2 linked regions of the Homo sapiens genome follow. The protein of the gene in region 1 purifies or fractionates together with the protein of each later gene. This does not show direct contact. Each region holds a gene or a part of one and is shown in the gene's direction. Other genes may lie near its edges. The genes, in order: PRTFDC1 and RTN3.

The links.
Region 2: the proteins of PRTFDC1 (region 1) and RTN3 fractionate together in Homo sapiens (co-fractionation; one large-scale study listed by BioGRID). This does not show direct contact.

Annotation. Positions count from the first base shown.
Region 1 is NC_000010.11:24,945,924-24,949,744, reverse strand, and holds part of PRTFDC1 (phosphoribosyltransferase domain-containing protein 1), read left to right. Parts: intron 1-3,821. UniProt on the Homo sapiens protein: Has low, barely detectable phosphoribosyltransferase activity (in vitro). Binds GMP, IMP and alpha-D-5-phosphoribosyl 1-pyrophosphate (PRPP). Is not expected to contribute to purine metabolism or GMP salvage.
Region 2 is NC_000011.10:63,715,912-63,719,732, forward strand, and holds part of RTN3 (reticulon-3), read left to right. Parts: intron 1-2,790; coding exon 2,791-3,821. UniProt on the Homo sapiens protein: May be involved in membrane trafficking in the early secretory pathway. Inhibits BACE1 activity and amyloid precursor protein processing. May induce caspase-8 cascade and apoptosis.

The DNA of each region.
Region 1 (3,821 bases):
AAAAATAAATAAATAAATAAATAAATAAACAAAAAAAATGAGTATAAACTGGACCAGCTGCCAAGGGGCTTGGTGCTTGCATGAGAGCCCACAAAGGTGGGAAATAATCCACATATAATGGAGATAGTCCCTACATTTACATCCTTTTCTCCAGTAGAACTTGGAATAATTAGATTAACCTCAAGTTGGATATAAGCAGGCAACTTCAGAGCGAATCGAAGCTGCTGGTAGAAGGCAGCTCATGGCATGTAAGGCAGGAGGGAAGGGAGAGCTGGAGAGGATGAGTTTACTGGGAGAATAGAAAGCTCTCAAGGATGGGATACAAAAAATCAAATTAGTACCAGTTTTAAAAAGGGGCAGGTGGCTGGGAGTGGTGGCTCACACCTGTAATCCCAGCACTTTGGGAGGCTGAGAGAGCAAATCACTTGAGCCCAGGAGTTCGAGACCAGCCTGGGCAGCCAACCCTCTCTCTACAAAAAATACAAAACTTAGCCAGGCATGGTGGTGCATGCCTGTAGTCCCAGCTACCGGGGAGGCTGAGGTGGGAGAAGCACCTGAGCCCAGGAAGTCAAGGCTGCAGTGAGCCATGATCGTGCCACTGCATTCCAGCCTGGGTGTCAGAGTGAGACCCCATCTGAAAAAAGGGGCAGAGGGCAGGTAATAATAGCAAGCATTTCTTGAGCACAAATCTGTAAGGGAGGTCTAGTGTGCTCCCCATTTTACAGAAGAGGAAACTGAGGCACTGAGAGATTAAGTAAATCACCCAGGTCGCATAAGTAGCAAATGGCAGAAGCGGGATTTGAACCAGCTTTCAATCACTATACTACATAGCAAGCTGTGATTCCAGGATGGAATTTCAGGGTTGGGGCCATCTGTAGGACTGGTCTGGCTATGTGAATGTATTGCTAAATGGGGAATAAAGATGTGATTTGAGTTAAGAATGTAGTTTGAGCTAAGGCTGGTGAAGGAGCTACAAGATGAAGTCGTTGGAAAGATCGTTGAGGTAGGCATTGGAGTAAATCAGCCAAGGAATTGTCCAGGAATGAGGTAGAGAAGAAAATTCCGAGTTGGTAGAAATCTGTTGATAAAGATGGCAAGGGATGTAGAGTCAGATGATATAAATATAAAACGAGAAGTAAAGTTTGTGCAAGAGAAGGGAATATTAAGAGATTTAAGATGGCTCTTGCCTATAAATTGGCTTTTGGTTGAACTGGGGAGGTAGGACATTTATACCATTAACAATAAATGGTAGCAAATGCTAATTGCCACATAAGAGAGGTAGATCCTAAGGTCAGAAATTTTGCTCAGAGTTGGCTTGTCACTTGATCTGGAGCTAATACAGTCACCAGATTCCTGGTTGATACCTCTTTGTTACTTCTCAGGGAGAGATAAAGATCTTCTCTATCCACCTGGCTTTTGGGGATCGGGTTATTAGACATGTTTTTGTTTGTTTGTTTTTGTCTGGTTTGGTTTTGCCAAATGATTATCAACTGAGCTATTATTAGTACTTACCTAAGTGAGTTTGGTAGGAATCAGGAGAAGAGAGAAATCAGAAATGATTGTTGTGTTTCTGTTATGGCTGGCTTCCTGTCACCCCCCATGAAAATACGGCAGTATCAGAGATAAGTAATCAGGTAATATCAGAGATAAGTAATCCATCGAAAGCACAGCTCTACTAGGTGGTAATGAGTTTTCCTTCTGTGGGGCAAACCCACCACAGAAGAGGAAGGCATGTGGATAGGAGGTGGTTGGCCTGTCGAGCTTCCTTCATTCCTCTGTGAGCAGAACCTGGGAATCTTTTAGCAAACCACTTGTCCCCACTTTTCAAGATGTATGGTTGTGAGGTGGGGCCCTTCCCAGGGTACCTCCTTCCCTGGCTCTAGGGCTAGGACAGGAATCCCAGAATTCCTGTCTGGGATTCTTTGAATTAGAGTGAAGGGATGAGACCCCCTTTCTCTTGCTGGTGGAGGACAGATGAGAGCTATGGCCTGAAGGAGAGAACAGGGCCAATCTGTGGAGCTCAGCAGGGGAGAGGAGCAGAGATTAGCTTCTTGTATGTGTTTTCTCCCTTAGGGAGAAAAATGATGCAAAAAATAGTCTAAGCACAAAAAAAATTATTTTTAATGACTTACAAAGTTTTCAGTGCATCTTCAGTGCGAAAAAGAGAATCAGAATTACTTCTGGGATTTGGATGTTGCATAAAATGACTCACTTAATGGGTTTGTCACTTCCCCCAGCTTGGCTATGTTTTGCTGTTTTGAACAGAGAAAGCATTGTACTGAATACACTTAGAGCATATTATCTGTGATACTGAAACTATCTACAGACTCTGGTTTTGATTTTTTAAAAAGCAAGTGAATAACAGTTATCTACAGTTCATAGCAACCTCCATTCCTGCAGGTTTTGATTTATTTACAACACGATTTGCATGCACCATTGAAGTTAGCAAAGCATAAACCAGTATTTCCATCGTCTTGAATCGACTTTCATCTCAACAATGAAAACTCACTATTTAAGATTAATTGAAAATAATGGCCAATTTGGATTATAGAACAGTTTTAGAGAAATATATTTCTTCTACTTTTATACTTTTTGTTTTGTTTTCTTGAGACAATCTCACTTTGCTACCCAGGCTGGAGGGCAGTGATGCGATCATGGCTTACTACAGCCTTGACCTCCTAGACTCAAGCCATCCTCCTGCCTCAGCTTCCCAAGTAGCTGAAACTACAGGCACACGCCATCACACCAGAACAATTTTTTTTTTTATTTTTTGTAGAGATGGGTTCTCATTATATTACCCAGGCTGGTCTCACACTCTTGGGCTCAAGTGATCCTCCCACTTCAGCCTCCCAAAGTGTTGGGATTACAGGCATGAGCCAATGTGCCAGGCCTCAAATGTATAGTTTTAACTAAGATAATAACACTGGCATATAGGTTTGAGGCACTTCTTTAGATGAATTAAAACATATAATTTGTTGTTAAATGATTGATGTTTCAGTTCATCTAAATGATTAGCATTTATTGCATAAGTACTGTAGACCAGAAACTGATATGAGTCTTACATTCATTATCTTATTTAATGCTCACCATAGCCATATGAGGCAGGCACTAACTCCATTTCATAGATGAATACACTAAGAGAATTTAATATGCCCAAGGTCTCATGGCTGGCAGGCTTGTCCCAGGTGTGTGAGATTTCCATGTCCATGCTCTTAACACACTACTCTGTGTGGCCTCTGGGCTATGGATCCATATTACAGTTTATAGGTTTGTTTCATTTGTGATTTTCTTATCATTTTTTTCCTATTTTTGGCATTCATTTTTGGCACTTTTAGTCTGTTTCCTTTTTTTGGCATTATGCGTCAAACATCATGTATTATACACCATGCAGTGTTCCAGGTATTCTAAGTACATTATCCTTATAATAACCCTATCCATAGGTTTTACTGTGTCTTATTTAAAGCAAGGGGAAACTGGATCTCAGAGACAGTAAGTCATCTCCCTAACATCACAGTAGTAAGTGTCAGAGCCAAACTCTTGAACATGGAGTGGAGAGTATGCTCCAAGATTCAACCAGAACGGGGGCAGTAAAGGATTGATGTGGTTGGAGGAATGGATTCAGAAGACCACTAGTTAATGGTGCCACTGGTGGAGGAGCTCCAGAAAGTGGGGTAGATAGTACATGTGGTCTGGAAGGTGATCCAGAAAGTGCTGTACACCTGGATGATCCCCCTGGGGCCTGGGGCCAGTCAGGGTTCTCCTGGTCTGGTCTTTACTGTGGCCTGCCAGAGGCTCTCCTAGAATCTCCTCATGTACAGCTG
Region 2 (3,821 bases), on another chromosome or scaffold:
TTAACCTACAATACTGGGCTTCATTTCTGTTATGCCCTAATCTAGTCATGCTGAATATCCATACTGTATAATGGTAGATGCAAACCATGTTTACTAAATTAGAACTACATATGAATTACAGTTTACTTCAAGTGTTTTGTTTTGGTAATATAGCTTTGCCACCAAGCTTTTACAGTTTTCCTTGAATGTACAAAGACTTTTTATTCTAATAACCAGATTACAGTTATACTATTTCTAAAGCTCAGCTCTTATTACATCAAGTTTCAGTGATGTGTTGAAGTAGGGGAACTTTATATGGCATTTCAAAACATTTTCATAATACTGGAATTTTATTTATTGTAAAATATTTTTGTCTTTAATAAAATAATTTTGAATGAAGTCATAATTTTGCTTTTATCTGGTATTTGGATGTTTACATGAAAAAGGGAACATAAGCTGAATAAAGGTAATCCCAAAAGAACTTCTCTGTCACATTTTCCCAGTTACTCATTCATGCTCAAGGCATTGCTGTCCTGAGCCTACTTAGGTCTCAGCTGACCAAGCTGAATCTTTGATTCACTTATTTGGGGCTATTTATTTAAGACCCACTTTGTCCCAGCTCCAAAGATACAACAGTATGCAAGAAAGACAGCGCCCAGGGTGGGCGTGGTGGCTCATGCCTATAATCCCAGCACTTCAGGAGGCCGAGGTGGGCAGGTTGCTTGAGCCCAGTAGTTTGAGACCAACCTGGCAATGTAGTGAGGCACCAGGTCTGTAGAAAGTTTAAAAATCAGGCCAGGCGCGGTGGCTCATGCGTGTATTCCCAGCTCTTTGGGAGGCCGAGGCAGGCGGATCACGGGGTCAGGAGATCGAGACCATTCTGGCTAACACGGTGAAACCCCGTCTCTACTAAAAATACAAAAATAAAATTAGCCAGGCGTGGCGGCGGGTGCCTGTAGTCCCAACTGCTTGGGAGACTGAGGCAGGAGAATGGCGCGAACCCGGGAGGCGGAGCTTGCAGTGAGCAGAGATCGCGCCACTACACTCCAGCCTGGGCGACAGAGCAAGACTCCGTCTCAAAAAAAAAACAAAAAAAAAAAAAAAAGAAAAGAAAGTTTAAAAATTAGCCAGGTGTGGTGGCATGTGCCTGTGGTCCCAGCTACTTGGGAGGCTGAGGTGGGAGGATAGCTTGAGGCCAGGAGGTCAAGGCTGCAGTGAGCCACAATTGTACCACTGGCACTCCAGCCTGGAGGACAGAGGGAGACCCTCTCTCAAATACAAACAAACAAATAAATGAAGTAAGAAAGCACCAGCCCTTGGGATATTTGTTTTGATCCTTTTCCCCAGTAAAAATTTGTTAGAGTGGGAAGTTAGAAAACAGTGTGGTAGATTGATGGCTACTATGGTATTAACTGATAAGACTTAACGTATTACTTTGAGAAGGATATTTTCTATTTTAAAAGTAATTCTGGAGTTAACTCTGTCTTTTTTTTTTTTTTTTTTTTTTTTTTTGAGACAGTTTCACTCTTGTTGCCCAGGCTGGGGTGCGATGGCGTGACCTCAGCTCACTGCCATCAATGTCTGCCTCCTGGGTTCAAAGGATTCTCCTGCCTCAGCCTCCCGAGTAGCTGGAATTACAGGTGCCTGCCACCACGCCCGGCTAATTTTTTTGTATCTTTAGTAGAGATGAGGTTTCACCATTTTGGTCAGGCTGGTCTCGAACTCCTGACCTCAGGTGAGCCACTGCACCCAGCCAAGTTAACTCTGTCTTAACCAAAGAAATCAATTTGCACAGTACAATATTGATTTAAATGACAAGTTAGTACAAGAGATTTTGGAGGGGCCAGGCGTAGCGGCTCACACCTGTAATCCCAGCACTTTGGGAGGCCAAGGCGGGTGGATCACTTGAGGTCAGGAGTTAAGAGACCAGCCTGGCCAACATGGTGAAACCCCATCTCTTCTAAAAATACAAAAATTAGCTGGGCTTGATGGTGCCTGCCTGTAATCCCAGCTACTTGAGAGGCTGAGGCAGGAGAATGGCTTGAACCTGGGAGGTGGAGGTTGCAGTGAGCTGAGATTGCGCCATTGCACTTCAGCCTGGGCAACAAGAAAAAGACTCCGTATCAAAAAAAAAAAAAAAAGATTTTGGAGGGGGTCCACCTTTTTCAGTACCCTTTAGTTTAGAACATCACAGCTATTTATTTGTACATGGGACAGATTCTCCCTGTGGATAGAATAGAATAATTCTAGTCTCATTTTTCAGATTCAGGAAGGGCCCATTGCATCTCCTAAAAATCAAAAAAGTCTGGCCACTAGTTTTTTTCCTTTTCAGATTGTGAGACTAACAGATTTATAGAGGCAGTCTGTGCTCTGAATTGTTCAGCTTACAGATTGAAGTCTATCAACCCTTTATAGTATCAGGTTATTTGTTTTGTATAAATTATTTTGCTTTTGTTGATTAGCTCTATCAAAGAATAAAAAACCTCCCAAGATTTCTCAATCTTACCGCCCTTCTTTATGCTTTCTCTGTACAATGGAAAAGTAGACCAAAAGTATTTGTCATGAAAATTTTTTATCATTTGCAGTTTGTGGCATGATATGGCTTTTCTGTTTCACTGTTGGCAGTTTTATGCATGTCCTGTAGGATAACTTGATCGTTTTGTTACATATTTATGTGTGTATATATACATCCTGTGTGTGTATATATATATTTATGTAATTTAAAAAATAAAAAGCATGCTGCTTGGCTTGGCTAGCTAATGTGTAATTGTACCTGGTAAACAATTTTTTTCTTTGAAATTCTGATCATAGAGGGATTGAGCTCTCTTTGCTCTGATGAGCCATCTTCAGAAATTATGACTTCTTCCTTTCTTTCATCTTCTGAAATACATAACACTGGCCTTACAATACTACATGGAGAAAAAAGCCATGTGTTAGGGAGCCAGCCTATTTTAGCCAAAGAAGGAAAAGACCACTTGGATCTTCTAGATATGAAAAAGATGGAAAAGCCTCAGGGGACCAGCAACAACGTATCAGACTCTTCAGTTTCTCTTGCAGCAGGAGTTCATTGTGACCGTCCTTCTATTCCAGCCAGTTTCCCAGAGCATCCTGCTTTTCTCTCAAAGAAAATTGGTCAAGTGGAAGAGCAAATAGATAAAGAGACCAAGAACCCAAATGGGGTATCAAGTAGGGAGGCTAAAACTGCATTGGATGCTGATGACAGATTCACTTTGCTGACAGCCCAGAAACCACCTACTGAGTACTCTAAGGTAGAAGGCATTTATACATATTCTTTGTCTCCATCCAAAGTTTCAGGAGATGATGTTATTGAAAAGGATTCCCCTGAATCACCATTTGAAGTAATTATTGACAAAGCAGCATTTGACAAAGAATTTAAAGACTCATATAAGGAGAGCACAGATGATTTTGGTAGCTGGTCTGTGCACACTGATAAAGAATCATCCGAAGACATTTCAGAGACTAATGACAAGCTTTTTCCACTGAGAAATAAAGAGGCAGGACGTTACCCAATGTCTGCATTGCTCAGTAGGCAGTTTTCACACACAAATGCAGCACTGGAAGAGGTGTCCAGATGCGTGAATGATATGCATAACTTTACTAACGAAATACTGACTTGGGATCTGGTTCCCCAAGTGAAACAACAGACCGATAAATCTTCTGACTGCATCACAAAAACTACAGGACTTGACATGAGTGAATATAATTCAGAAATTCCAGTTGTAAATCTTAAAACTAGCACTCATCAGAAAACTCCTGTATGTTCTATTGATGGGAGCACTCCCATCACTAAATCAACAGGTGATTGGGCAGAAGCATCTCTC